Linked DNA regions of Homo sapiens: all the other regions are linked to region 2. The links come from fine-mapping of genetic effects on gene expression. A gene starts in region 2. Each other region holds a variant in brackets. All regions are shown on one strand. Distances are from middle to middle.

Region 1 (10,329 bases), 57 kb after region 2:
GTGGAAATGATTAACTGTTGTGAAATAATGCATTTTATTTGTCAAGCACTATGTGAAGTGCTTTATGCACATTTTGTCTAATTCTTAAAATGACTTTTTATGTTAGGCATTATTGTCCTTATTTTATAAACTATGTCTCAGGAAGGTAAAGAATTTGCCTTTGATTACTGGGTTGGTTATTAAACTAACATCTCTCAGCTTCAAACCCAACTGTCTACATTTTGCTTTTTGATACATGGGCTGTGGGCATCTGCAAACCATGTTTCTGCTTTTTTGATTGGTTAAACCCTGTCAGTTGGGGATACTACAGGAAATTGTAAGCAGGAGGAGGTAGATGGAACATGTTCTTTCTTTTTTGCTGTTGTTTTTGTTTTTCTTCCTATTTGCTTTCTGCTGGCTTTCTTTTCCCATGAGCATCACCCAGCAATGCCTCTTCAGTCTTGCAGCAGCAGTTTGTTCCAATAGCAGCAGAGGAGTCCAGTTTGTGGTTTCCCTGACACTCACAGAGTCAGCATCAGTCGCTGGCTCCCCTTCTTCAGAGATCTGGGACCCAGAACCATGGGATGCCTCCTCCCGCTAAGCTCAGGGACTCAGCACCATCAGATTCTCCTCAGGAGTCTGTGAGGCCTGTGCTCCAGGCTTCTAACTGTTAATAATTCTAATATCTTCATTTTGTTCCTCGAATTCTAGGAATGGTTGCTACCTCTATGATACCTTAGAGTTCTCTTTTTGCCATTTCAGTACTTAATTAACAACTTTTATAAAATTAACAATTCTTTATTTTATTTTATTTTATTTTATTTTATTTTATTTTATTTTGAGACAGATTCTCACTCTGTCGCCAGGCTGGAGTGCAGTGGCACGATCTTGGCTTACTGCAAGCTCCACCTCGTGGGTTCAAGGGATTCTCCTGCTTCAGCCTCCCGAAGAACTGGGATTACAAGCACATGCCATCACGCCCAGCTAATTTTTTGTATTTTTAGTAGAGGCGGGGTTTCACCATGTTGTCCAGGATGGTCTCCGTCTCCTGACCTCGTGATCTGCCCGCCTCGGCCTCCGAAAGTGTTGGGATTACAGGCGTGAGCCACTGCACCCGGCCAAAATTAACAATTCTTTATATTAATTTCTTTCTGTTTAACCTGTATGATTTCTGGCTCTTGGCTGGATCCCAAAACAATTAAATAACTATTACTACTGCTCATCATCATCATCATGGCCTCCATTTATTATTTAGCAATGCTTTTAAGGTGGTAGAACTAAGTTCCTCATAGTGGGTGTGGGCAGAATGCACATCCGCTATATTCTTTTCTTGCTACCCAACTGGCTACCTTTGGGATGGAGCAGAATTTTTCAAGGGCACAGGCCATTTGATCTTGCTAGCGCTGGTAGTGTCTATTAGCCCTGATGTGATGTTTTGTAATCTATATATTCAGTGCTAATTAAGCCTCAAAGCAATTCCAGCAAAGCTCTTTATAAGAACCAGGGCTATGTTTATTTTTCCCCATCGACTCTGCAGAGCCAAGAACAGTGTCTAGCAGTGCTTGGTAGGTGTTTAGTATGCATTTGTTGAACAAAAGATTGCATGAATGCATGAGCAAGGCTTAGGAATATTAGAATCTTATCCTCTCCAGTGAATGGATTCTGGAAACTGACTTCTTGGATATCTGGCCTTCTTCCTGATTTGTACTTACGTTGCCATCTGGGACTCAAGCCTTGAACTGAAACCCAGTATGTTCAACAGAGGCCTGACAGCCATTCTATTCAACAGAACTTCTCAACCCCACACTTCTTGTCCCTTTCACTATCTATGCCCTTTGAGTTGTTGGCTTGAGATGTGCTTCCAATCAGATGGACCCTCCTTGAACCATAACATTACTGTGGTTTCTGCCTGCTGCTGAGCTCTACTCTATAGGTCTTTATGGAAGTAACCCCACTCTGAGCACTGGGGAAGGCCTCTTTCCCATTGGGATTTGTACAGCAGCTAACTTCTCCTGCTCTGTACTTTCAGCTGGTTGAGCTACCTCTGTGTCTGCCCCAACCCTAATTCCCTGAATCCCACCCAGGATGCTGGCCCATGCTCTTCTCTCTGCCAGTGTTTGAAGTTCCTGCATGTCTCATGGTTAAGACTGCACAGTTTGGTGTGTTTATAATTCAGGTATTTTTCACTGGTGCTCATTATATGCAGCATAAGTCAAACAAACAGAATTTCTTCTCCACCTGACCTCAGAGATGAAATAAAAACTATCTTTGTGTTTAAATAAACGTTTCCTGGCCACCTTTATGCATAGACAAACTTTCCTTGGGATACTGAAAGAAGAGTATAAGAATATACATACCTATATTTGTAATTCAACATGATTTAACATTATTTTCCCCAGCTGAAGTTATACATGATTTTGTGTAAGATTTAAAATTAATCTCATGTTCAGTTTCAACTTGTTATTGTGTCTACTTTTTTTTTTAACTTGCATAGAAGAACAATTCCATGGATCATATCACCTGATTGACATCTTTCTGGTTTTGCTCTCTCTGTCTAAAATATCAGAGAACAGTAGAAATTTCTGCATGACTCAGAATGTTGAAAAGCCTTATATGATAGTAACATAGCATAAGAGCATATCCTGTGATGATTTTTCTTTTAATAATAGAGTTCTGGTTGTCAGGTTATACTAGGAAGCTTTTCAAGATGGGATGCCTTTGAAGTAACCACACAGTTCCTTCTCTCCTTTTTCTTCTATGATTACTATTTCTTTAAAATGAATAAGTAGGCAATTGATTTTATGCCCAGAACCCAACAATGAGACCCCCACAGAACAGGGATAATTGGAACACAGATATGTGAGCAGATGGGGAAAAATATCAGCAGGAAGGAAATGACCCAATGAAGTCTCAATGAGTAGAATATGGTTTACTGGAAAGTGTATAGCAGGTAGTAGGGACCCAGCAGTAGGTCTGGAGTACAGACATTACTCCCTCAGAAAACTGGGAAAGGCAGGCAGAGGTTTAGGTAAGGTAGATGAAGAGACCAATGTCCTGGAACAACAGTTTGAGATCAGGAACTCAACAGCTGAAGTTCACATAGGCTGACTGAGTTTTAGGACATTGAGCTATGGCCTAAGGCTCTGTGATCTTTTCACTAGTAACTGAGGCAAGCAATAATGAACAATAATTTAGGAGTGAAGTTGGACATAGTGAGTCTTGTCTGGTTCTCCTATGTGTATAATTTAGAAATCAGAACATTGCTATTAAACAAGAGTTAGAAACAGTTTAGGACAAAGGACTTAGACAGCAATATTCTTCCCCAGACAATACCCGCTCCACTTTTCTTCTTATTGTTGTTTTGTGATTAGTTGGAATTAGTTGGAAGGGACCTGGAAAGTCATTATAACACATTTGTAAATATCAGGTTTGGTGTGGAGTAGTATTTGACTTCTGAGGTATGGATGATGATTTGTGACCAATTAAATATCTAAACTTTCTATACTTTAGACGTTGTCAACTAGCTGTAATTTTGCCCTCCCCTTCCCTCAACCCAGGACATCTGGCAATGCCTGGAGACATTTTCGTTTGTCATGACAGGGGAAGGGGGAATGGGAGTTACTGTTACTTCATCTAGTGCAAGGGTCCCCAACTCCCAGGCCGTGGACTGGTACTGGTCTATGGCCTGTTAGGAACTGGGCCATACAGCAGGAGGTAAGCGACTGGAGAGTGAGCACTACTGCCTGAACTCCACCTCCTGCAGATCAGCAGCGACTGATTATGTACCCTATTGTGAACTGTGCATGTGAGGGATCTAGGTTGCATGCTCCTTATGAGAATCTAACTAATGTCTCATCTGAGATGAAACAGTTTCATTCTGAAACCACCCCCCACCCCTGTCCTTGGAAAAATTGTCTTCCACAAAACTGATCCTTGGTGCCAAAATGGTTGGGGACCCCGACAACTTAGGTATGTAGAGGCCGATGACGCTGCTAAATATTCTACAGTGCATAGAAGTCCTCCACATCAAAAAATTATCCAGCCCAAATGCCAATGGTTCTGAGGTTGAGAAGCCCTGCTATAAACCAAACAGACTGTCATTCATTTTGTTTTTTTTTAATCCTGGTATTCTTTGTCACTGTGGATATGTTTCTTGGGCAATTGTTATACCCCATAAATAGTCTAAACTTGTTCTGAATATAACAGAATCATCTTTCGGCACCAGTTGTCTACTCAGTCTCCACAGGTTAGCATTCTCTGACTATGGCATGTGTGTTTGGGTGCATGCAGTTCATAGTAGCAGAATAGAATGAAACTGTAGACATTCACAGACCATCTAAAAGGATTAATACATGACCTTTCCTTTCAGGGTTTTTACCATCTGAGCTACTAAATAAAATAGGTGCTTTACCCAGAGATGCAAGCTTGAAACTACAATGTGACCTAATATGTTGTTTTTAATGCAGATTAGTTTCTTCAATGCCAAGGCAACAAAAACCTGGAGTGAAATCCTATTACTCTTGCAAGCTGATGTGCATATTCTCTTCTCATACACAAACAGCTTGGAGACTTGGACCTAATTTTATGGCATCTGTGTATGCTAGGGCCACTAATAACATAGACACTGACTGGCAAGAGTTGAATGAACTTTGTTAATCTGTTAACCAGCTGGGTTCACTTAGGCCTAGTTGACTTTTTTAGAGGAATTATTCTGTAATTGGAAATTTCTATGCCCCTTACATTTTAGATGATTGAGGGACTTGGTAGGTTTATTCTGCCTTTTGATCTTTAGGTGCTTTTTATGTATCTATTATATAGAATCACAGACTTGAAAAAGACTTGAGTGAGGTCAGCAAGCTACTGCATGCAGCCAAATCTGTCTTGCCACCTGCCTGTTTTTGTAAAATAATATTTTATTAGAACACAGAAATGCTCATTCATTTACGTATTATCTGTGGGTGCTTTTACATTAAAGTGGCAGAATTGAGTAGTTGGAACAGAGATTATATGTCATGCAAAGCCTAAAATACTTATTATCTCTCCTTGAGCAGAAAAAGTTC[G/A]TTGACCCCCACCTAATCCCACTTCCTCATTTTGCAGATGAGGAAACTGACTCTTAGAGGGACTGACTAGACCAAGGTCACACCACTAACAGAAAATCGAGGTTAAAGCATGATTAACACATGTTTTGAGAAATGAGGATGATGAATATCAGACCACTGACAAGCTATGTTCTAACAGCAAAATGAAGAGAAAAAAATATATTCTATAACTTGATTTACCAAAGACGAAAAAACAAAACAAAACTGGCTTGATGGATTTACTTCTTCCCTGAATAGATCAGTTGTCTTTATGTCATGCAGATAGAGCCGAAGCAGGACTTCAGTCAAATGACATCACAATTTTATGCAGCTAGGTGGCTGTTTTCCAAAGAATAGCAGAATATTTGTTGGTCAGCCTCCTGTGTCTCAGCATTATATTCCTCAAAAGTTGAATTATTGATGGTAAGTCAGAGAAGACACTTTGGTAATTGCTGAAATCTTGACTGTATTAAGACTGACTGTCCCTGTGTTCTGCTGTGGCACCAGCTGACAGTGATGAAATCTATAGAAGTAGGGCACATTTCCATAACATGAATATTCAGGGTTGGTGATGCAAGAATTATTATTAAACCACTGGGAAGGAACACATTCTCATTATTTGATTGAATACTAAATGCTGCCTTTTAAAAATAATTCAGTATGAATACTTTGATAATGAGGAAAGAGAGATGCTTGGAAAAAAAACTCATACTTTTTTTTTCTCTGGTACGTAAGAAGGAAATTAAATTAAGTTTAAAATATATAGCATGTCTACAGGAACTATTTTGGAACCATTAGCTATATTTCATCTAAACCTGTCTTACATATATCGAAGTATAATGTAATAGAAGCCTGAATAGAGTCTGATGTAAATGATTTATATAAAAATAAATTATGTAAAGAAGTATAAATAAAGACCCCTGAAAATAAATAAAATGCCTATTACAAATAATAACTTGAAAAAAACTTTAAAAAACCCAATATTTGTTAGACGTTAGATGTGTTTGCTACAGTTCTGAGTTGGATGTGTATGCTGCATTTCTGTAAATGACACAGTTTATATATTTCAAGGACCCCTGGCACCTCTAAGAACCCTGGGTATTCCTCAAAACTGAGTGTACTTCATATATGATGACAGTTCAGACAGCTGAAGTGCCATCATATATGAAGTACATCCAGTTCCTCATAGCCAAGATGTTATGCATAGGAAATAGAAAAGAAAGGAAAATGATTTGATTCATTCATCCATCAAACATGAATCAAGCCTCTGCTACATGCCAGACAGTGCACAAGGCTCTGGTCCTGCACAAATTAAATAAACAAGGTCCTTGTCCTCTAAAAACTGATGATCTAAAGGAGGGTGCAGGCAAGTAAACAGATTTTCAACAGAAAATGGTATGTATTCTGTAATAGAGGTAAGCTCAGATGCCATTGTGGAAAATTTCTCTTCCTTTTTGCTGGTTTCTCATCGTTCCTTCTAGCTCTTCTCCCCTAATCAGTTTAGGTGGGGTTGTCCCTTAGGCCCAGATTGGGTTTGTACCCTTTTGTTTCTCTTTCTACCTCCTCCTTCCTTGAGTGTGCTAACTCCACCCTTGATTTACTAACTGGGTTGTGCTTCCTTGTCTGCCCTCCTAAAGATGGCCATCCCTTGTTAGTGCCTTGAGTTTTCACTTCCTCCTTCTCCTCATTCTCTTCTCTCTTACAAAAATGAAGCCACTGAATGCCCAGTTACTGAGGTTCATGCTTTCACTAGTAAACCAAATACATATTGTGTTAATGCATCTACTAGGTGTTCCTATTTGTTATCACAACTATGCATAGGCATCTATGTAGCAATTTTACTTTAAATGAAAAGTCTTGCATACTACAAATCTTTTATTTGAAAAGGTAGAGGGGTACAAGGCTGAAATTTCAGACATTGTCCCTGGAAGCTCCCTCTGGTTGCACTATTTAGGTAAAAAACAAATGAACAAGAGACTAGGTGAGGCAAAGTCAGTGAGAGACTGGAACAGAAGTCACAGACAATTCTTTTTAGCACAACAGCCACTCATCCCATATTTATTCTTCCCATATTTCTTAAAAGGACATCTGCTCTGTGTGGCGCATGGCAGTGGGATGTATTGGGAAGAATCTGGATTTTGGAATCATACTGTGTTCAAATCAGAGACTCAGCTGTTGCAAAAATAAAAATGCATGTGCAAACACGTAACACACTGCTTGGCTTCAGATCTGTGATCAATACATGTGTTTCTTCATTATTTTCTTTCTTTCCTTCACTAAGAGAGATAATAAACAGTAATCATTTACACATATCTGAGAAAAGAAGCTTTGGAGAGAGAGCAACGAGTGTTTCTGGAACTGACCTCCACACAGAGTAAATTCAGAAATCAGCAGATCTACATTATTTATTCAAAGAGAGAACTGCATTGTAATCACTTTCCTGGATGCATGGGGTGAATGAGTGACAGCAAATACCTCAGTCATTGTGAGATGGCAACCTGAAGTAGGTGCATCTGAGAAAAAGGGCAGAGACCTCCCCAAAGGTCAAACAGAAGCAAGGCAGCAGGCAGCATTGCAGGGGAGGCAACTGCTGGGAAAGACACAGCAAGGAAGAGCTATTATGGGATGCCTCTCTGTGAGGTAGGGAGTGACTGTATATATGTTTTGAGACATCAGATCCTCCTCACCAAAGAGCCACTCTGGAAATTCTTGTTTTGACTTCATCCTTTAAGATTTTAAAAAGCAGTACCCTGAAGCTGTTTTCTTTGTTTTACTTTGCTTTAATGACTTAACAGCATTACAACATGGGTTTAAGTGCAAGAGAGTTTAGAAAACCTTTAGAAAAATAAGTCAAGCAAAGTTCAAAAGAAAACATGAATCTTATGCTAATTTTACCTGTAGGACTCAGGGCAGAAGTGGCCAAGCTTTTTGGCAGAAGGCACTGTTGAAAGGTATTGTGTGGTTGTGGCGGAGACAGTGGGAGGATGAAGTGAATCAGAAACTGTTGTTCTGTCTGGGATGAGGGGAAAATATCTGAAACTACTCCTTCATTGAGCAGAGGGCCAAGGATAGAACCCCAAAGAACCAAACTAAACTCAATCATAGCAAAACATCCTCTTTCTTTTTGTTTCTGCTGCTACACAGAAGAGATGAGGTGGGGATGGTCCATGAAGATGAATGACTGCTTCCTAAGACACTGTGGCGAGGAGGCTGTGGAAAGATGGCAGCAGCAGACTGTGGAGAGAAGTCAATTCACTGTGAGTGGTCAGACAATACCTGAACCAAGAAGACACATGGGACAACCTCTTGGGAACAGAAAGTTCAGAAAAGGGCTAAGAAATAGGATGGAGATAGGGATACTCAATGATCTAGTCATAAGGGATCAAAATGGGAATGCAATTAGGAAGTAGAAGGCCTGAGATAGACAGCAGCCACTGGGATTGGAAGCAATTTTAGGATGATTTCCCAAAGGGTAGAGATGTTCCAACAATAGCTTGATGATAAATTTTGTATTTTTTCAGGGCAGCTTGGCACTTCCCCAGGTAATCCATTCTCAGAGTTTCTGTTCAATCAAAAACTGTAGCTTCTTTGGTTTAGGAGTTTCCTGAGCCTGTCTCAGGGCAATAACGCCTTCTGGGTTAACTGGAGACTTCGTCAGAGACAGATGGGAGCTAACTCCAAAGAGTCATCATGATAACTGCGGTTGTTCAGATTCTTTATTTCTGGGCATCACATAGAATTTAGATTGGGACTCCTTTTCTATCTAACTGAGGGATGGGAATCATAATTGCATATTTAATTTTGTCATTAGAAATGATAATAAACTCATTGCCATTATACCACATGGTTTAAAAATAATCTGTTAGAGCATTTGTTTCTTGTTGTTCAATGTAACCAACCTTATTAAAGACCTTGTATCAACAGTGTTGTTTTGTTTTGTGGCATAATTAAAATCATATTTCTGACTTGTGTAACGTATAAACACATGCAAAGTTGTCATATTTTTTTATGAATACAGTGATAGAATATATGGGACTTTTGATAACTTACTGGTTTTTAAATGACAGAATTCATTTTTTTTTTGCATCCTGAATCAGAGTTGTGATTTGCTAAGTCTGGTATTAAAAAATAACTCATTTATCCAGAGCTGGAAGAGGTCAGTGAGACAGATAAGAACATTTCCTCAGTTTACATTCCAGGAGTGTGTCTACGTGCAAAGCCTATAGAGTTGGAGGAAGCATGGGGAAGCCCAGTAAGGAGAAGATAGACTAGGAGAGGGATGAAATGGGCTGCTGTCAAAGACCAAATGCATCTGTGACTTGTATTACTGAGGAAATGCAGTATTTCAGAACTCTTTTTAAGGAGAGGACTATCTGGATCCACCAGGGCTACCTTCTTCCTAAAGATCTGCTGTGTCCTGCTGCTGGGTGAATTGCCTTCTAGTGAATTGCCCACTCAGGTAGAGTTCAATACTCTACGAAGAAGAGTTGTCTTAATAGAAAGAATGACTGTTTGGAATGACTTTGAGTCTCATTGGAGAGTGAGATCATGTGCCATGCCCTTCAGCACATTCTTGCCAATTGGCAGTGGATGAAAATTGGACCAATCCTCTGACTGGTCCTTGAAATTTCACAGGACAGGCTCAGCGTCCCAGATGAATAGGATTATTGGCATCAGTGACTTCATTTTTACTTCTTATATTAGTTTACCAGGACTGCCATAACAAAATATTGTGACTGGGTGGCTCAATCAAGAAAAATTTATTTTCTCACAGTTCTGGAGGCTGGATGTCATCCAAGTTCAAGGTACCTGCAGGTTTGGTTTCTAGTGAGGCTTCTCTCCTTGGTCTGCAGATGGCTGCCTTCTTGCTATGTCCTCACACAGCCTTTTCTCTGTGTGCCAGCATCCCTGTGTCCCTTCCTTTTCTTTTAAGGAAACCAGTCCTCTTGGATTAGGGCCCTACCTGATGACCTTATTTATCCTTAATTACCTCTTTAAAGGCTTCATCTCTAAATACAGTTTCATTGGGAGTTAGGGCTTCAACATATAACTTTTGGAGGACACAATTCGGTCCAAAAAACTTCTCATACAGCTTCTGTTGGTAGGGAACATCAGTAGAAATGTAGCATGAGCAAAAAATAAACCTGATATTTTTGAGGCACTGAGATTTTAGGTTTGCTTGTTAATGTAGCACAACCCCGTCTACTCAGATTAATAATCATGGCTTGTATTTACTCTGAGTTGAACAGCAACATGTGGTCTTGTTTAACAA
Region 2 (10,329 bases):
ATGGGGTCTCTGTGGAGAAATGGGCAAGTTACTCACCTCTTTCTGCCTTGGTTAATACCTGCATAGGATTCCACAGTCACAGACTGAATGCCTAGCTTCAGCCAGGCATCTCACAGATAAATCTATTACATGCAAAATGAACCAGATGAAATAGTACAGACGTATCCACGCAAACATATCACCACTATTATGAAAAACAATTTAAAGGCCGTTCAGCTCAGATGTGTGCTCAGTCCAAGAGGGAGACACATTATTATTGATAATCAGTCTCACAGGGAAGTTGGACACCCCCTGCCCCGCTACAGTGGGGATGTATTTTTATGGATTAAAGATTAATTACATTAAATACTGAATTTTGGAATGAGTGCTAAAATAGATAATGTGATTTGGTCATTAAGACACTGAAGCAGGTTTTTATTTTGTATGATTACTACTGTTACCAGTTGAGTTACAAATGGCATTGATTCACTGAGGATGTGTCTTGTCAACTGCTTCCTGCTTGACCTGCAAATGCCAAGTTAGTCAGGAGTAGGCTTAAATAAAAGTCACTGCAGTTCAGCCTGACTTACTGATTACTGGGGCTGGTTTCTTACCAAAACTGTGGGAATCGGTTATTCCAAATAGCTAGGTGGAGTCAGGCAGCTTCACGTGGCCGTTGCTCTTGACTCCTCAGTCCCCAACTCTTAACCCATATCTGTTTTCTTGTCTATGCAATGGTGAACCTGTTCTCTCTGGCCTTAAGATTATTGCTGAATTTTTTACTGATTGCTGGTGATATTTGAACCTCTAAGCAGAGTTAGTTATTATCATCATTGCAATTACGTTTCTACTATAAATTTTTTTGAGTTACAATCACAATGTTATCAGAACATCTTTTGATAACATTTCCTTTATTTTAGATAATGATTTCAGTACCAAGGAGACTTTATTGCTAGATCCAACTCACTGTTGTGCATTAAATTTTGTCTCAGATCTAATCAACTTTGGTGTAAAGTAAAAATGAGGTCAGAATGCTCACTAATTCATGGCTTGAGCTGTCCTTATAAGAGCAAAACTGAATAGTTGCATATATCATTGAAACATTTCATTGATTTATTTTCCTTATTTATATTGATATTCTCTTTACAGAAGTACTATAGCAATATGGAATTCTGTGTTATTAGATTCCTAATCTTAATTATCAAATACCAAAAAAAAATAAACTTCACAAAAACCAACCAATAAACAAAACAACAGAAAGCAAACAAAAATAATAACTTTTTCTAGTTTTGTCATAATGTTAGTGTAAACCATTCTTCTTACAAGTTGTATATTTAGAACCCCAAATTTCTATGGTACTATGCTCCAAATTAAAGTGTGATGTTTATATTAAAATTCTGAGCCAATTAACTAAGCAGGTACACATCTCTAAATACTACTGGCATTTAAGAATAATAGAGGGATGATTATAATAAACTACCAAATAATGCTTTTACAGATAATATTATGTCAGTTTATCAGCATTATGTTGATTATCATTCATACATTTCCAGTCTGGAATGTAGTAGCTACAAGAATCAAAAAGCAAAACCATAATAAAGCTAGTCTTCCTAGTTTGTGCTTGCCTCCCAAATTAAAAAAAAAGTTGTTATGTGCCAAAAATGTAAAACTTATTTCAAGAAAATTAACAGGCTACACGGGTAAATTTTGGCAAATGCAACTTTATATTGAAGTTCACACATCTGTATCTTAAAGAATGAGACTCACAGACTCTAATGTATTTCTAAAATACCAGAAATCATAATATAAGCTTTCACAAGTTAAAACTGAAATAATTTAAATTACCAATACACTGAATGTGCAGAAAGTATAAACAAGACTGTGCCTTCAGTAGAATAAATGCTTCACAAATTGTGCAGGATGTCATACTAAGGCTGTGGTCTCCCCTTGACAGCTGACTTAAAATATAAACATACATCAACTGCCTGCTTCTTAGAACAGTTTAGAAAGGGTAGCACACCGTAGAAGAAAATCTCATTATTTCAGTGATGTGCACTTTAAGTTTCAAACCATGTGAGAAAAAAGGAAAAAGTAATAAATGATCTTCCATGCACTTTTAGATGCATGACCATGACCAGTTACTGATTTGATTTCCCTTGGCTATTTGCTCCAGTGCTAAATAAGATGAAGGATACTAGATAACCCTTTAAGGCAACATGTATTTATTCTGCATTATTAGAACTGCTCAGTTGTGACAGGCTGGTACCATTAATGTTGCCTCCCAGACCAATATCTAGCATTTGTAAAATATAAATGAATTGGAAAAACTTTATACCAAATCAACAAAAACCACATAATACAGTTCAATGCTAGCAATCTTACTAGTAGATGAGGAAAGTGGTATTTAGAAATAGCAATGTATTAATACAAAAAAAGTAAACTCTAATTGGAACCAATATACTGCTTTGGAATGCTCCCCAGAACTTACAAGGCGGTTTTTAAAGTGTGATATTCCAATAATTCATTGGCACGTCTTTAGTGGATTACAGTACTTTAAGTCCCCAAATATTTTAGTCTTTGCAAAACAATAGTAGTATGAAATGTTTTAAAGTCTTCAAACTTCTAAAATTAGTTTTTATCAACACATTTACCTCATGTCAACTTAATTTATTAAGATGTCCAATGCTAATTGTTTTTTGATGTTTTTTCATATGTAGTGACATACAGAGCATTTAGCACTGATACTTAGCACCTGCTACTTTCATTATCTAGTTTTTGACCACATAAAGAAACTTAGGGCAGTGGTTCAGTCCCTTCTTAATTACAAACCTTTGCTGGCAGTCAGCAGGATCACTCTGAGATTTAAAATAGGATTATAGGTGAACTATTGCAAAGACTGCAGAATGTTGCCCAAATCCTTAAAACTGCTGATTCCATTCTTGAATTTCTTCTCAAAATATGGCTATGGGCCACAATTGCTCAGCAGAGAAGGTTAGTTTTCACAAGGCTAAAGATTTACAGATGCTCCCTCATATAACACAGTAAGGTTCCCTTGGTAACCTGGATTTTCTGCAGTAAAGAAGGGTTGTGCTGAAACAGCGCCTCAGCTCCCTGTTTGAGAAAATGCAGACAAAAGGATTGATTCCTGCTTGGGCAAAACTCATCCAGACAGCAGCTGTTAGAAATCCCCCTGGTACTACAGGCCCTCTTGCAAAAACTCTCCAATAACAGGCCACCAGGTAGGGGCCCCACAAGGTTAGAAACAGAAAAGTCATTATATAGAACATTCTGCTGATTCTTTTCTCCATTTTGAACTCGTCTAAGACCAATAGCCTTCTTCTGCCTGTGGTGTTTGCATTTTGCCTGATGCCCAGCAAGGTGGGTGGTGTGGGACCCCTTCCAAATCCTGCTAGCCAATTGGCAGCTGCCTGGCCACTGGCTCCAGGACCATGAAAAGTCCAGTTCTGGCTGACTGCTGCTACAAACTGGACTGGCTTCATTTTTCTTCGATCGTGGACGAAAAATATCAGCTTGAGGTAGACAAGCTGTGTGGCTAGGAGGATGAGAGCAAGAAGCAGCATAAATCCTAAGGAATCATTAGCCCTGAAGGAGCGGTGTTGGAAGGTGCATTGATCTTCCTCCCTAATGAATGAGTAAGTGCCCACGTCTAAAACCGGGGGAAATGCCATGGCCACAGACAGAGTCCACACCATACAGATCACAGCCAGACACGTCCAAAAGGTCAGCCTCTTTGTATAGAAGCGGTGATGGGCGATAGCTAAATATCTGGTGACACTGATGCAGAAGAGCATGAAAGCAGTGTGGAAACAGGACAAAACCCCCAGAAAGGCAATCACTTTGCAAGTCAGAGTCCCATAAGTCCAGGTAGAACCATTTTTGACAGAGTTGAACACAAATGGGAAACAAATTGCAGATCTGAGGATATCTGAACAGCAAAGATCCAACAGGAAGTAGTAAGGTGCTCTATGCAAGGTCTTATCTTTCACTAGCAAAATGGAGATCAGGAGGTTGCCCACCACGCTGACTCCTATTATGAAACCCAAGGAAGTCAGTTTCAGAAAGGCTGTTAGAGGCGAGAGATTTTGCAAAATGTTGTCAGCTGCATGGCTATAGTTCGCCATAGATGGATGGAGGATAAGGATACAGCCTCAGTCAAGTCTCATGATCTAGATATAAGAACAAGGAAAAGATAGATCCATACATTTTACTGAAAATATAATCCACAAAGAGAACTGATCTGATCTGCAGTCATGCTTCCTCTTTTCTTCCACTTGTTTTGCCATCAGAATATCTGAAAAAAAAAAAAAAAAAAACCTATCAGTTCTTAAGTTAACAAGCAATGATGTCAGACAGTGCTAACAAAGCTGTTCACTTATGGGGAAGCAAATAAAGTTTTAATTTTGAATACTAATATTTGCTTTACTAAATATTTTTGCTCGAGATTTCAGAGAATTGGCTTGTTTAGTTTTTCAAGCTAAGTGAATTTTAAAATGTCCCTATTTTGGACAATATACATTTGATAGGGTAACTTTAGGAGAGAAGGAATAAAATGTCCCATTCTTGTAAAATATGCCAGTCCAGGAATTAACCACTAGAATTGCAATGGAATCTACAAGATTGCTATTAGGAGGCAGAGACACTACCTACATTTATTTGAGATCTATTAGTATCTGTCAGTGTTTCACAGGCAGCTTCTCTGTTTGATGTGGGTCCAAAGAACCCGTGCAAAATATATCTTAAGTGCCACTATTCATGCTGCATAAGAGTATTTGTTGATTCATCTTAAAGCAAAATTTCAAAATTAACTTCAAAATTAATAGGAACTTACTTGTCCCAAGATTTGATGTGATTTAATCATTTGTCTTTCCCTCTCCACCCTACCCCCCATTTCTGGCAAATCTTTTAAGCCCACATGATTATTAAAATGGTTAATGTAAATATTGGACAGGGAAACACACCCAGAGGAATAATGCACTTCCATTTGTAAACCTTGGCTGCCTGGATTCAAATGAATATAACATGAACCTGTATTTCTTGGGCAATTAAGCCTTTCCCATTTACACTGATAACCTTTGTTGCAAATCACAAGTGGCTGCTTTTTAAAACAAAATGCACATTGTCTCGCAGGTGCCTGGACCACACCAGGGAAATCGGCTTCCTCTGTTATTCCCACCAAGCGTGTTTCTTTTGCCACTTCTCACTGGCCCGGAATATGCTGGTGGAAGCCCAGGCAAAACTGCGTTCGATGATTTTAATTTCCCCACCGGTACATCCTCGGGTAAATACCGATCGCATCATGCAACATTACGAAACCTGAAATCCGCCACCCCTGGATTTATAATGGGGGGAGGGTGGAGGAGGGGGAGAGGGAGAGAGACATGCATTACATACGCGAAGATGGGGAGAGAGATTGCTTCTGTGCTGCAAAGGAACCGTTCCCGGTGATTCGCAGTCTGATATTCCTCAGTCTTGTAAGGCTTTCCAGAAATGGAGCTCTCAGTAAGCCCTACTGAAGATGCATTGTCTGAATGTACTTCCATTATGCAGTTTATTGTCACAAAACACATACACACACACACACACACACACACACAGAGACACACACACACACACACACACACACAACCTGAGGGAGGGCTCTTTCTCGGTGAACCTGCAGTTTCATCAACACTGTGCATTCCCCCACATCCCCCAAACTTAACCAAGAGTATATCCTCCTACCTGTTGGTGTTGGATATCCCGACAGACTATAGCTTCTTTCTATAAATTGCTGATTTTTTTCTTTTTTTCTTTTTCTTTTTTTTTTTTTTTTTTTTGTTTTTTGTTTTTTTTTTTTTTTTTTTTGCCTTAGTGCCTTGACTGAGCATCCAGGCAGGGCTCGGCGGCGCCTGCGCGCTGGAGCCTCCTTGAGCTCCAGCCGCGTCCTCCCCTGTCGCAGCGGCACCGTCTCCCCCAGTAACGCAGGGGCCGCGGCGGCGGCGGCTGCGGTGGCGAGGGCGGCGGCGGGGCTGCTTCAGCCTCTGTGGAACCAGCAGGAACCCCTACCTGACTCCAGAGCTGGCTGGGTTTATTGACTGCCCTGTCCAATCCAACTGGCAGCATTAAGCTTTTGTCCCTTCGTGGCTGCTTCTGAACTTTTCCCTCCCCGCATTTGTAGTGGGGGGCTGGAAAGGCCCTTTCAGGACCTCAGGCCCATCCTCTTCCCAAAGGCAGCGCACGAGGAAGTCACAGTGCCCGTGACGCCCGCCCCCTCCCTCAGCTTCCCGGAACCCTAACCTTCCCCAGACACTTTCTTCCCTTTTCTTTTAGGGTGGTCCAAACCACCGGAGGCTTCTTTTATATATTTATTTTTAAGTGATGTCTCCAGCTAACCTTTAAATTTGCAGGTTAGCTGGAAAAAGACAAGAAAAGAATGGGAAAAAAGAAAAAAAGTTATTTATTTATTTATTTATCTTTTTCCCACAGTTAAAAATCTTTTCAATGGGGAAGAAGGGAAGGCACGTTAGGGCAGCTCTCTCTTTGTTAGTCATCTTCTATTCTCCAATGCACGCAAATATGCGTAAAAGTAGGGAGAAAGCTAAGTTCAGAGGACAACTACAATATGATTTACATTCAGTCTACCTTAAAGGATGTCACTAAAGAATCAGGCTTATAAAATGTTTAAATGGCTATTCCTGGCATTCCACCCCACCAAGCAACAGTATTCCTTTTCCCTTCTTACAAGTTCCGCTGACCAATGATGGGTGATGTCAAAGCAGTTATGTGTACGAGTTTCCTTTTTTCCCCTTTGTTATTACAGATGAAAAATACTAGAAATATAACAAATACGTAAAACTTACACCAGTCCAAACGGTCGGATGATACCACAGACACCACAAAGCCTGACACGTGGGTGCTTAGGAATGCCTCTAGAATCATGCATTTTCTTATTTTACCATTTCCGAAGAGTTTTGTTTGTGGAGGTGATATAAAATTTTAAGCAACAACTTCCCAGTTCTCCTACCCAAAACTAGCAGACACGCTTTCATTAATTCCCAATGTAAAACGTCTGCTTCTTTTTCTGCATGCTTTTTGCTTTATAATAATCTGTTAATGAAACAAAAAATAAAAATCTTCTCTACAGTAATAATCTGATCTTGAGACAGCAGTAAAATACCTCATTGCTGGGTGGTGAGATTGTGACATTCAGGGGAACTCAGGCCAATCAGCATACAGATAATATGGGTTAATTTACATACTGTATTTCTATTGGATGAGCCGAGGTAAAGCCTTATCTTGATGTCACAGTCGTTACACAAAGCCCTATGTTGGTAATACTGAAATGATGTTAAATTTCCCTGATTTGTTCTTGAATTTCCTACGTCCATTTAAATACATGGATAATAGTTTGTTTTTTTCGAAAAGAATATACACAAGGCACTAAACTTTGGCATTCCCTTAACCTAGAAAAATCAATCCTACAGCCATGCTGGAAGTAACTTGAGGGCATTTCCATTCAAATAAAACATTCCACTTTTTGCAAAGCAAATGAATTCAAAACTCAAAACCATGTGGTGGTTTGCAACTTCTAAGTAAAATGTCAAATTCGTTTTTATGAAACTACAAATCACTTCAACTTGTGCTTTTTTGCTTCCCAATAAATGCTTCAATGTACTTTGCAAAGAGTTATTTCCTGAATTTTTACAGTTTTAAAAAATGTATGGAATAAGAGGCTTAAGTTTGCTGAAGATTCATGATTGGTCAGATGTTAGGTTGTACAGATTAGGGAAAAGCTATTTTAAAGTAAATTAAAAGAGTCACTGCACTGCCAGGCCATGAAGCAGTAATATACTCTGCCAAAAGTTATAGGGCCAAGATCCAAGGGTTTTAACTAGTCTTATTCTTTAAGCAGATATTGATTCCTTAAAAATAAGGGAGAGGGTATATGTGTATGCAATATTCTTTCATATCCACATCTCAGGGTATAGTAAAGCTATTTTTTTCCTTTGCAGTTGAGCACAGTTACATCCACTAATTCTTCAGCTTTTCCAGCTGTTGGATAAGAATGTCATTTTCTTGCCTCACAAGGGGACTCAAGAAATTAATGAGATATTTTCTATCTAGCTCATTAACTCTACTGGAGAAAACATTGGAAGCTACATCTTTCATCAGCAGGGCTTTAAAAAATATGTTTAATAGCTGACAAAAGTTTCATATCATCTACAAGTTCTCAAATGTAAAGTTATTGCTTCAAATTGTTTAGATCATAGGCTTAGTTGGTCTTAACTAATTTCTTTTTTTTTTATCCCCTACATCACCAAACCCAGAAAATTTGATTTTCAGGTTAAGAGTAAAAGAACAAAGCAAATACAACAAAACTATATGCTCTAATCCTTGGGTTTGAAGGGTTCTGAAGATTTACAAACTGTTGGAATATTACATGTACTATATTGATCAGTGTATTAGGAAAACTGATATAATTTGCTTAATTTGGTTCTTATAAAAAGTACATACCATTTTATTTTAAAAACCAATGACCTTGCTTTCAAAATTAATCTATTTCAGATTTTTGCCAACTGATGCATAGTATCATGATCAGCAAAAACAGTGTTTTTTTCTGTGCATTGTTTACATGAAAGTGTGTGTCAGGAAATAACACTTGGTAATTGCAGAGAATAATAGACTAGAATAAACATTCTAAATAAAAGATTTTTAGTAATTCATTTCAAATGACATGTCTTCTGCTTAAAGCATAAAACGTGTGTCTTTGGTGCTCTCAACTGTTACCAAAATTTAAAGTTGTATATGAAAAAGAGCCTTTTTAAAGTTTTCTTTAAAACTTTAACTATCTTTTTGATGGGGTTGTTTGTTTTTTTCTTGTAAATTTGTTTGAGCTCATTGTAGATTCTGGATATTAGCCCTTTGTCAGATGAGTAGGTTGCGAAAATTTTCTCCCATTTTGTAGGTTGCCTGTTCACTCTGATGGTAGTGTCTTTTGCTGTGCAGAAGCTCTTTAGTTTAACTAGATCCCATTTGTCAATTTTGGCTTTTGTTGCCATTGCTTTTGGTGTTTTAGACATGAAGTCCTTGCCCATGCCTATGTCCTGAATGGTATTGCCTAGGTTTTCTTCTAGGGTTTTTATGGTTTTCGGTCTAACGTTTAAGTCTTTAATCCATCTTGAATTAATTTTTGTATAAGGTGTAAGGAAGGGATCCAGTTTCAGCTTTCTACATATGGCTGGTCAGTTTTCCCAGCACCATTTATTAAATAGAGAATCCTTTTCCCATTGCTTGTTTTTCTTAGGTTTGTCAAAGATCAGATAGTTGTAGATATGCGGCGTTATTTCTGAGGCGTCTGTTCTGTTCCATTGATCTATATCTCTGTTTTGGTACCAGTACCATGCTGTTTTGGTTACTGTAGCCTTGTAGTATAGTTTGAAGTCAGGTAGCTTGATGCCTCCAACTTTGTTCTTTCGGCTTAGGATTGACTTGGCGATGCGGGCTCTTTTTTGGTTCCATATGAACTTTAAAGTAGTTTTTTCCAATTCTGTGAAGAAAGTCATTGGTAGCTTGATGGGGATGGCATTGAATCTATAAATTACCTTGGGCAGTATGGTCATTTTCATGATATTGATTCTTCCTACCCATGAGCATGGAATGCTCTTCCATTTCTTTGTATCCTCTTTTATTTCATTGAACAGTGGTTTGTACTTCTCCTTGAAGAGGTCCTTCACATCCCTTGTAAGTTGGATTCCTAGGTATTTTATTCTCTTTGAAGCAATTGTGAATGGGAGTTCACTCATGATTTGGCTCTCTGTTTGTCTGTTATTTATGTATAAGAATGCTTGTGATTTTTGTACATTGATTTTGTATCCTGAGACTTTGCTGAAGTTGCTTATCAGCTTAAGGAGATTTTGGGCTGTGACAGTGGGGTTTTTTAGATATACAATCATGTCATCTGCAGACAGGGACAATTTGACTTCCTCTTTTCCTAATTGAATACCCTTTATTTCCTTCTCCTGCCTAATTGCCCTGGCCAGAACTTCCAACACTATGTTGAATAGGAGTGGTGAGAGAGGGCATCCCTGTCTTGTGCCAGTTTTCAAAGGGAATGCTTCCAGTTTTTGCATGAACAGACGCTTCTCAAAAGAAGACATTTATGTAGCCAAAAAACACATGAAAAAATGCTCACCATCATTGGCCATCAGAGAAATGCAAATCAAAACCACAATGAGATACCATCTCACACCAGTTCGAATGGCAATCATTAAAAAGTCAGGAAACAACAGGTGCTGGAGAGGATGTGGAGAAACAGGAACACTTTTACACTGTTGGTGGGACTGTAAACTA
Region 3 (10,329 bases), 26 kb after region 2:
GTTTAATTAATAATATTTCTTGATAGCTATCATTAGTATGGACCACTAATAAAAAATGTAGAGATCACTGGACAAATAATGTTTTAATTTTAATTATGAAAACAATAAGAATAATCTTGAAAATGAATATTGAAGACCATATAATACTTCTTTCACTTAATATGCTGAGTCTTTTTTTGATCCCTCTTATGAACTGCTTATTATAAAAGTGCACAGTGACTCTGAACTTTTTCTCTAACAGGAGATTTGTTACTTTCTCTCCTGGGTTAGAAACTTTTCTTTCCACACCTAGAATTCAGAGTGTCTTTTATAAACCCAGACCTCTAGCATTTCTGGTACAGTAGTATATAGTCACCTCAGTTATCCTCCATGTTGGAAAACTTGCTTCTTTAGAAGATCAGGACAATAGACACATTAGATATATTTTTATGTATATATTTGCAACGGATGAATTATAATGTAAGAATTAATATACAGAAGTCAATTTCTAGGCTGAAACCACAGGTTCAAAGGATATGAATATATTTTTGGTACTTGGTAGAAATTATCTATTTTGCTTATTATAGTATTATAATAAGCTTATTATAGTGTTATCAATAATGACAAGATGTTAAATACCATTGGCATGTCCAGCATTATTAAAGGTATTGTTTTGGAATAAGTAATGGTAAATATAAGGGGTAGAATATTACTTGATTGTTAAAATATCCGTGAAACACTTACATGTTAAACAGACAAACAAAACTAGAAGACAAAATGGTATGCATGTTCCAATCCAGTTTCATTAAATTTATGCAGGTGGAAGATGGCTTGGAAGAGTGAAAACAGTTTTGCTGAGGACAGGTAAGGTATGGGTCATTCTGATATTATCTAATGTTATCTATATATCATTACCATATATACCATATCATTATCTAATGTCATCTATATATCATTACCATATATACTAATTATCTAATGTTATGATTTTTTTAGTTAAAAAGCAATACATTAGATAGTGTAATAACCATTTAATTTGGTTTATAAGTTACAGAAAAAAATTTTTTGTTACTTTGAAGTCACCATTTATTTTATCAAATGATGTAATTTTACCTCTCCAAGTAATTTAAACTCCCCAGTCCTTAGAATCTAGGTATAAATGAAGCTCAGAGCTCTCTTTCAATTGGATAATTAGCTCACGAGTGGTTGCTCTATTTCTCACTCACCTCATTCACATACAGGGCTCAGCTCTGAATTGCTTCTGGCTCATTCCAAAAGCCAAGTGCTCAAACATGAAGACTTCTTTTTATTGGAAGTATTTGAAAGGGCATGCCATATTCCAAATATGAATTCCAAATATGCTTTAAATAATGGCAGCATCAATAAAGTCCACTTTTCTCTAAGACTATTTTTTAAGAGGCCAAAACATTTGAATGAAGCAGTTGATTTCTAAAAAGTGACTTTTAATGTTTCTTGTACCTTCAATCATACCTAGACACTGAATGGATTTCAGAAAGTCATAGGGCCTGGGTGGAAGCCCCAACACAACAGCAGAGTGGAATCATGGATTGGCTATTCTATAATCCATTCGCCGTGACTGAGGGTGAGAAGTGGAATTCTATTTGAGGCTATATTTGAGAGCCATCTTTGAAAATGAAGAAGTAGTTTGGGCTCTGGGTATCTTTTCTTTCCTTTTTTTCCCCTTTTTTTCTGATACAGCCTTCAGCTGAATGAAATGTGGGCTTTGAGATCACCTGTGATAGCATTCTCTAAGACTGCAATATGTTGAAAACTGTCTTGTGATTACTTCATAATGGATATTTTCCAATGGATAACACTTAGAGTAAATCTGAGTTGCCAACAGCTTTCAGAAAGGCAGAGGTAACACTGTATGTAAAACGGAAGCTCCAAACCTGCGGTGTTATTAAAAAGCAATAATATTGCTTTAATATTATACCTCTGTCAGCATATAGACTTGTTTATTCAATGCTACTCTATTAATCTGTTCTTCAGGATGTTTTAGGAACTAAATTTAATGCACAAATATTTATTGAAACCTCTTTTAGCTGACTGTGTTAGTACTTGCAATGATAAAAAGACACAATTTGATTTTAACAAATTTATGATATAGGCAACAGATATGGGGGTGAATGGGAAGGGAGGGGACAGTAGGGCTAGTGGTGAAAAAGGGTTGAATGAAAACAGGTAAAAACAATGCACTGTGAACTCTGGAGGATGGATATCATTAACTCCTTTTTGAAAAGGTTTCATGAAGAAAACAACATTTGTAAATGTTCCATGAGCATGAAAGCATGGCAAGACATTTGATTTTGCCAATGCAGGCAGTCTGTTGTTGCTGGAGTATAGTATGAGTAAGAGAACGAGAGAGGGCAAAGGAGAAGATCATCCTATGGTTCATCATTCAAAATGATGAATCATTTCTGAACTAAATGTTATACAGATCATTAAATATGTCCATACAATGCAAGCTTTTATAAATAGTATATATAATCATTTAACTCAACTAACTAGCCTATATCTTAATATTTATTAAAATCATGTTTTATAAATATAATTTAATGTCCAAGAAAATGATACATATCACAAAGAATCTCAGGCCTGTCCCATGCAACATCTGAAAGGTTGGGAGAGCTGTACTGATGACAGTGTGGGCACAGCCAGGCTCACTGGGGGATGTCATGATCCACTGTGGATCCTGGGCTACATTAACTTTATATCACAAATTAGTCTATAAGAATTGGGTGAGCAAATTCTACATGCCAGGAGTTATGCTGGAAGCAGAAATACAATGAATTAGAGACTCAGTGTGTGCACTCACAGAGCTTAGAATCCTGAGACAGGGGTGAGGGTGTTTAGAGATAAAGATAAGTAACAGAAATTCCAGTACAGCGTGATATGTACCTGTTAAGAGAGGTGAAGAATGCTATGTGAGCATACAGTGGGGTATGTGACTCAGACAGGTCAGGGAAGTTGTCCTAAAAAAGTGTGGTTCAAGCCTAAAGAGACAGGAATAAGCTAGGTGAACTGGAAAAACTACCCCAGGCAGAGAAAGAACCATGCAGACACAGAGTGGGGGAGAAGTGAGGAGAATAACAGACAGTGAGAGGAGGAAGGAGAAGGAAGAAGTAGAAGGTAAAAGGAAGAAGAGAGGAAGAGAGAGAACTCACCTGGTGCTTTCTAGAAAGAGAAAAAAGTTTAATGCAAGGTAGGTTAGGGATCACAGACATAGATGAGACTGGAGAAATAAGGGGAGGGAATATGGGCAGATCACACAGTGCTTTCTTAAGGTTAAAAAATTCATAAAAACAGGAAATCCCTTAAACAGTTTTGAGATGGGATCAGATTTGTTTTATGAAGTTTACCACAGTTGTGTTTAGAAAAGATTGCAGAGGGGTAAGATGGGAGGTGATATTGTTTGGCTCTGTGTCCCCAGTCAAATCTCATGTTGAATTGTAATCCCCAGTTGGGGGAGGGACTTGGTGGGAGGTGATTGGATCATAGGGGCGGATTTCCCTCTTGCTGTTCTCATGATAGTGAGTTCTCATGAGATCTGGTCATTTAAAAGTGTGTAGCGCTTCCTCATTTACTATTTTTCTCTCTCCTGCTCCACCATGGTAAGCCGTGCTTGCTTCCCATTCATTTTCTGCCTTGACTGTAAGTTTCCTGAGGCCTCCCATCCATGCTTCTGGTACAGCCTACAGAACTGTCAATTAAACCTCTTTTCTTCATGAATTACCTAGTCTGAGGTAGTTCTTTACAGCAGTGTGAGAACAGACTAATACAGGAGGCTGGAAGACCAGCTGGGGGGTGCTGCGGATGTCATCCACGTCCTCATGATGGTCTACATGGGTAGGAGCCACAGGGATGGAGAGAAGTGGGCGAATCGTAGGGATAATTTGGAGGTGGATTCCACAGGACTTAAAAGATACATCAGACGGGGAGTGTGATGTGTGCCACCCATCCTCTCAAGTGTCTGTCTTGGTCACTGGGAAGATGGTATCTATGACCTGAGTCTCACTGGTGATGCCAGAAAAGACCAAGCCTATGAAACCAAAAGGTTGTTTATTCCTGAATAGAGCCAGGTCAACATCAATTAGCAGGTGGGCTGTTTGCTGTGAGTGAGAGTGGCAGGGCCATGGTTTGTTTTCATTCTTCCTTCTTGAGACAATCCCTAATCACACTTGTTCAGTACAGAAAATGAGCTGCCCCTCCCTGCTTCACCGAATTGAAATCCAAAATGTACCAAATGACTAGACTACTGTCACTGAGGAGTTCGAAGAAAAAATCAGCTCCTCACTGCTGCCAACTGAAAATGGATAATTACAATATTTTTAACACATTATACCTTATTATTTTTGAAATTAGGAAAATCCTTATGAAGCCACAAAATTCTATCAATAGGAAACCTCTTAGAAATTACTGACAAAAAATTTTACAGATGAAAAAGTTGTGGAGGTTAAATTATTGGCTCAAGATCATTTGCCTGATAGTTGATAAATATTTTTATTTCTAAAGAGTACTGGTTATTTCTCAAAAACTGTTGAGTAAACAAGTTAAAGTTAAGCACATGCCATCTCAGGGGCTATAAAACTGTTTCATGTTGGTATTGAAATGCCCTGGTAATTTTTGTGGCAGAATGAAAGGGTTGTTGTGACAAATAATCTGAAATAGAAAATGGTATAGTTTCTGCTCTTGGTGCTCATG[C/T]CTGCTTCTAAATTCTTTTGTTAAGTGATTTACGCACATTTAAACAGAGCATAATTATCTTGATTAATATTGAGAAATACAGTATTTATAATCCCTGTGTTTAACAAAGTGCTACATGATTAGCCCTTTAAAAATAATTAACCCTCTTGTATATAAAATTTCATAATTTCATTTCATATTATGAAGTGCCAACTAATATTTTCAAAATTTTAATCACCCACATAAAATGGATCCAGTGGAAATATGTGAGAAGAGTACTTTAGCTCTGATACTTATAAATCAATGAGAAATTAAACGACATTATCTTTTTTTTGCAGCAATCATATATTTTTCTGGTCTTCTGCATTTTGCATTTAGATGTTAGATGTATATTAGTCAGTTATAGAAAGTATTTAGAAAAATGAAGTTACTGAAAATTAGAAAAAAAATAAACATGCTATTCTGCAAATTTATTTATTGATTTGGCCCCATTTTCACCTATGAGTGAAAATCATGTCTGGGATTAGTAAATCAAGATAAGGGCTTCCTCTCTACTCCCCACCATAGGAAACAAACATTAAACACATTATATGTAGTTTATAATTTCATGACTTCTAATGAGATGAGATTTGTAAGTATTTTTCTTGGTGGAATATGGACCAGATCTGCTATTTTCCTGAACAGGAAAAACCAAATTCCTTGCCTCTCCTTAAATGACCTGGGCAGTTGCTGCTAACCTTCTGTTATGCTACCTAGGAAGGAACCCATGGTTAACGTATTAAGAATCATTAAAAAATAATCAATTATTTTCTTTCCTTTTTTTCCCCTTCGAAAGCATGAGGTACAAACCAGAAGATTTAAAAAAATTTTAGGGTAGTCGAATTTTCTTTTCTTCACAGGTGTCTTTGAGCTTTATCAGTTTGTAAGCTAGAATTGTGTGTGTTGGGAAGGACTATAATAAGAAAAAACAAAGACTGAGTATCATCTTCAAGGGCCTGTTAGGACTTGGGAAAATGTCAAAATTAAAATTAAAGTTTGATATAGGATTTGTTCATATAACTTTTAAGATATCCTCTTTAAAAATTCAAAATTGATGCTTGTAAAGTTTCTTCCCCCTTCTCTTTAGGAAATATCTCTAAATACTCCTAAAAATAATAACATACAGCAAGCCAACCCTTCCACATACACTACCTTAGATATTTCTCATCTACCTAGGAGGTGGAGTGGAGAAATACTATTATTACATCCAATTAACAGACAGGAGATAGCAATTTAAGAGAAAATAAGTGACTTGCCCATTATGACATTTTAATTCTTGGAGAGACGTCTGTTAAATTCCACAGCTTGGACCCTTAGCCTCTATTATAGTACCACTGAAGAGACTGTTATGAGAGTCGCTGGCTGGGAGATGGGTCATATGCAGAAAATTCTCCTCCATTCATTATGTGCTGCAGGCTATATAGCTGCATTACCATTCCTATATCCAAGGTTGGAAATGGCATTTGATAAGCTGGTACAGAGCTAGAAAGCCCAGCAGGACACAGGTGCATGTGAGGTGTAGCTTCTGAGATTTCCTGGACCTGGCTAGTTGGCACAATTGGTATCACATCAGTTTTTCAAGAAGCTCCCACTTGCAGTCTCAATGCTGAGACAAAATATGAATACAGCCCATTTTCTCAAACTTCATCTACGTCCCTGCATTTCTTGATGGTTAGTCTCACTCCCTAGTTGAGACTGTTGGGTTAAGGTAGGAATAAACAATATGCTGGATGGGTGAAGAGGGGAAGGTGGATGTGGGAGATGACGGGACAAAAGTCTGTGAGTAAAATACCTTGAAGTAATCACTTTCCTGGTGTTTTATCTCTCCATCTCTGGAGTAGCTCAGAAAATTCCCTCTTTAAATATGCACCAAGACTTATACTTCTAGAAAGATGGAGTAGACATCTTTTTTCCTTTTCCTCCCACTAAATATAGCTAAAAACCCTGGACATTATGTATAAAACAAACATAGGATTCTGAAAGGCAGAAAGAAGGCACAACAGCTGGGTACCTCAAGAGCAAAGGAACAACAAAGTGGTGAGTTAGCTGGTTTTTTTTTTTTTTCTTCCTGTTTCAGATTGAGAACTGGAGAAGTTGGTAGCACAGAAAGGCCAACGGGCTTAGACCGAAAAAAAAAAAGGGTGGGGGGGTGGGAAACCAAACAAGACTATTCTCTCTAGTATTTAAAGGTATAGGAAAGGTGTAGCTTAGTGAAACAGAAAACTTTTAGAATTGTAGCCCCACTTCCACCATCAGCAAAGGTTGAGTGGAGTGCCAAGACCTCCACTTTCACCAGGCTGTAGATGTTCCAGGCTCCCCACTGAGGTATCACAGAAGGCTGGGTGGGGAGCTGGCACTTTCATCCTCACCAGTTGATAGTAAGAACCTCCCTCTTCTACGCTGGTACCCATGAAGACCATGTGGGTAGCCTGGACTCCACTCCCACCTGGTGGTAACAAGGCAACCTATCACCAGTGTCAGTGGAGGGTATAGGAGGAGCAGTCATGAGGCTTCCACCTGCATCTGGCAGGAAGGAGGAGGCATCCTCCCTTTCTACGAAGGAGTGGTGTCAGAGGAATGTTAAAATACAAAATTTAAATAAGAGCCACAGCCTTTTAAATATAATACCCAGAATGTCCAAATGTCAATAGAAAAATCATCATCATACTAAGAACTGGGAAGATCTCAACTTGAATGAGAAGACAATCAACAGATGCTAAACACCGAGGTGACAGAGATGTTAGGATTATTAAGGATTTAAGCAGCCATGAAAAGGTGCTTCAGTGACAATCACAAACATGCTTGAGACAAATGAAAAAACAGGTCTCCACAAAGAAACACAAGACACAAAGAACAAAATGGAAAGTTTTGAACAAAAAATACAACAGCAGAAACGGTGAACTTAAGCATACAATACTAGAAATTACCCAATCTGAATAAGAGAAAAAAAGGACTGAAAAAATAAATAGAGCCTTAGGTATGCATCAGACTATAACAAAAATATCTAATATTGGGTCCCTGGAGTCCTAGAAGAAAAGGAGAATGAAAGTGGAGCGAAATTTTTGTAAAAAGAAAGAATGGCTGAAAATTTCCTGAATTTGGGAAAAAAGAATAAAACTGTAAGTCTCAGATACCGAGTGAACCCCAAACAGGATAAACCCAAAGATATATCCATGCCGAGATATATCACAAACTTCTAAAAATTAATGACAAAGAAGAGTTATGAAAGCAGTTAAGAGAGAAATGATGCAGGAAATGTACTGATTTTTAGCATTAGAGAACTAAGCTGGTTACATTAAAACTACAGAGAACAGAAATATAAGTATTTGCAAGGACCTTAAATTCTTCACTTGATCTCAACTATTTTTAACTCAACTCAGTGAGCTAACATGCACAAGGCATTTACTAGATATCTACAAATTGTGCTGGGCATCAGAATATTTGCTAATGCCATTCTTGCTGTAACTGCTCCACAGCAGGTGTTATCCCTCATAGAAAATCAAGGAATTTTAGAATTGGAAAGATCCTGGATGGGCTTCAGCTCTGAAACTAATCTAAAAATGTCAGCATGCATGGGAATTTTCCTAAAGAAAAAGATGATAGCTTTCATCAGATTCTCAAAGGAACTGGTGGCCTAAAAATGTTAAGAGCCACCATAAGGGTTCTGTTCTTTTCAGGCAAAGCCATATAATCCAACCTAAATAGATGAGAAATGAGGCTATTTTTAGAGGAGGTGTTCCCCCATCATATCCATCAAAATTCCTGCATGCCACCTCAAGACAATTCTCTACTTTTAAGGGGAAAATAGGGAAATGGCAGTTTTCTAATTCTTTCTAGGCACTTTTGGAAATACACGTTGACCAAAGAATGTTTGCCTATAGTCTTATTTTGAACATTTTAAAAACAGTACCTGGAGGTGACTAAGTGACTACTGCACTGTGATTTAAAATGTACTTTAGGTTTGATTTCTCCCATCCCAATGGAAAAGTTGACATGCAAGGAAGCCGCAGCAGCCTTTCTACATCAGCACCCAATGGGCTGGAGTATAAGAGATGACAATTGTTCTATAACTTGCATCATTCCTTTTTCCTTCTTTAAAACACACAAAAAAATGCAGGTACAATCAAGCTATATTAATTATGAAATGTTTAACTGCCAATTAATTTGAATAAAGACTGTTAGTGCTTCCTCTAGCAAAAAATCGAAACAGCTGTGACAAAAACAAGTGCATTCAGTTTCCATGTCTTTATTCTGTGATGCTTCTTCACTCCTTGTACACTTTAACCAAAACTTTCATGCAAGCCAAGTCAGCTCACTCTAGAATTACACCATAAACAGGACTTTAGGTTGCTAGTGCCTGTTTTTGGATAAAAAATGAGGCTCCCAATGTCATCTGGAGAGCTACAGATTGGAAAATGCATTTTAGGAAAAAATTTCACTACTTACCTCCAGTGTGACCCTAAAGTTTGATTTCCTTAGACTACTTTATGCTGGCTACAACTTGAGAATCAAATGAATCACTGAGGACCCTTGTTAGACATGGAGTTCCAGGCCCCATCTCACAGCTATACAACCAGGAGAAAGACCAGGGAATCAAAAAGTCTTATCAAGTGCCTGGAATGATTCTTGGGCTCAAGCAAGTTGGCAGTCTTCTTAAATTTGTAATGTGCATACAAATTAACTTGGGCTTTGGAAACGAATGCTGTTCCTGATCCAATTGGTCTGGGTGGGGCCTGAGATTCTGCATTTCTAACAAGCCCCAGGTGATGTTGCTGGCTTGAAGACACTTTAAGTAGCTAGGCCAGAGAGGATATTTCGTTTGGCTGGCGTACAAATCAGTTTAAGCCATTTCATTTTCCTTCTATATTTCTAGATTTTCTATCAGGGGCTTCTCTGACCTTAATGCTGCCCAGTTCTCATTATGTCTCTTCAAGCTACCGCAATCAGTTAACACAAGGCATCCTGCCCTTCTCCACTTAGCTCATATAAAAATCCACAATGGATACAAACAGCCCCAAATAAGAAATGGACACGAAACATTAACTTATAACATAATGGGTTTATATTTAATATAGTACTTCTCATCAGGAGGATGTTACTCAGTTAATATAAAGTTTTTTTTCAAAACATTAAATCTCTTTTCCATGTCAATGTCTATAGTTTTTTTTTAACATTAAATTTTTTTCCGCATTTCAGTATTAGATACACTGAATACATTTTTCTAAATGTTTTTTCCCTAGAGATAAAAGTTTTCCTTTTTGCCTGACTCTCTGATATCTAAATATAATATTAACTTGGGAGACAACAAAACAAAAATCTAATTTAAAAGACTCCTCAACGATTCAGGAGGCAGTGATTATAACCGAACAGTGGTGATTTCCTAAGATTCTGGGCAAGAACTTCCTTCTTCCTATTTCACATGCTTTGAGAGAATTCTAAGATTATGAAATATTACTTATGTAAATTTCAGCCATCTTACTTCTTTGACTACCTAACTAGCAAATTATAGGCTGCATTTTTCTGTGCATTATTTGTTGTAAAGAAAACATTTTTTTTTCAATTTATAAATGTATGTTTGTTGCCATTTCATGGAAACAATGAAAAATG

Alleles and levels. Positions count from the first base shown, and alleles are read on the strand shown. Sizes are in standard deviations (SD) of each study's normalised expression. Not every link is listed here.
In carriers of allele C in region 3, the expression in monocytes after Pam3CSK4 of the gene that starts at base 6,227 in region 2 tends to be higher than with T alone (moderate effect, 0.43 SD a copy in Quach 2016).

Evidence for each region.
Region 1: its variant is fine-mapped to the expression of GPR85 in blood mononuclear cells (TOPMed, PIP above 0.99). The same link has a PIP of 0.9 or more in T cells and monocytes after R848.
Region 3: its variant is fine-mapped to the expression of GPR85 in monocytes after Pam3CSK4 (Quach 2016, PIP 0.95). The same link has a PIP of 0.9 or more in monocytes after LPS.

The regions. Positions count from the first base shown.
Region 1 is chr7:113,137,462-113,147,790 of GRCh38, forward strand. It overlaps LOC107986837, which reads left to right. Exons shown (of 4, transcript XM_047421162.1): 3 at 8,202-8,314; 4 at 8,579-8,980. The coding sequence ends at 8,665. Among named protein-coding and RNA genes, the nearest start is that of SMIM30, 24 kb to the left of the region's middle. The variant G/A (reference allele first, on the strand shown) is at 5,040.
Region 2 is chr7:113,080,601-113,090,929 of GRCh38, forward strand. GPR85 (G protein-coupled receptor 85) reads right to left here and starts at 6,227. Exons shown (of 3, transcript NM_001146267.2): 1 at 5,722-6,227; 2 at 5,392-5,509; 3 at 1,685-4,291. The coding sequence starts at 4,121. The coding sequence ends at 3,009. RefSeq lists a silencer at 5,913-5,972.
Region 3 is chr7:113,106,957-113,117,285 of GRCh38, forward strand. It overlaps LOC107986837, which reads left to right. Exons shown (of 4, transcript XM_047421162.1): 2 at 799-843. SMIM30 (small integral membrane protein 30) reads right to left here. Exons shown (of 3, transcript NM_001352688.2): 3 at 9,762-10,329. Among named protein-coding and RNA genes, the nearest start is that of SMIM30, 6.4 kb to the right of the region's middle. The variant C/T (reference allele first, on the strand shown) is at 4,705.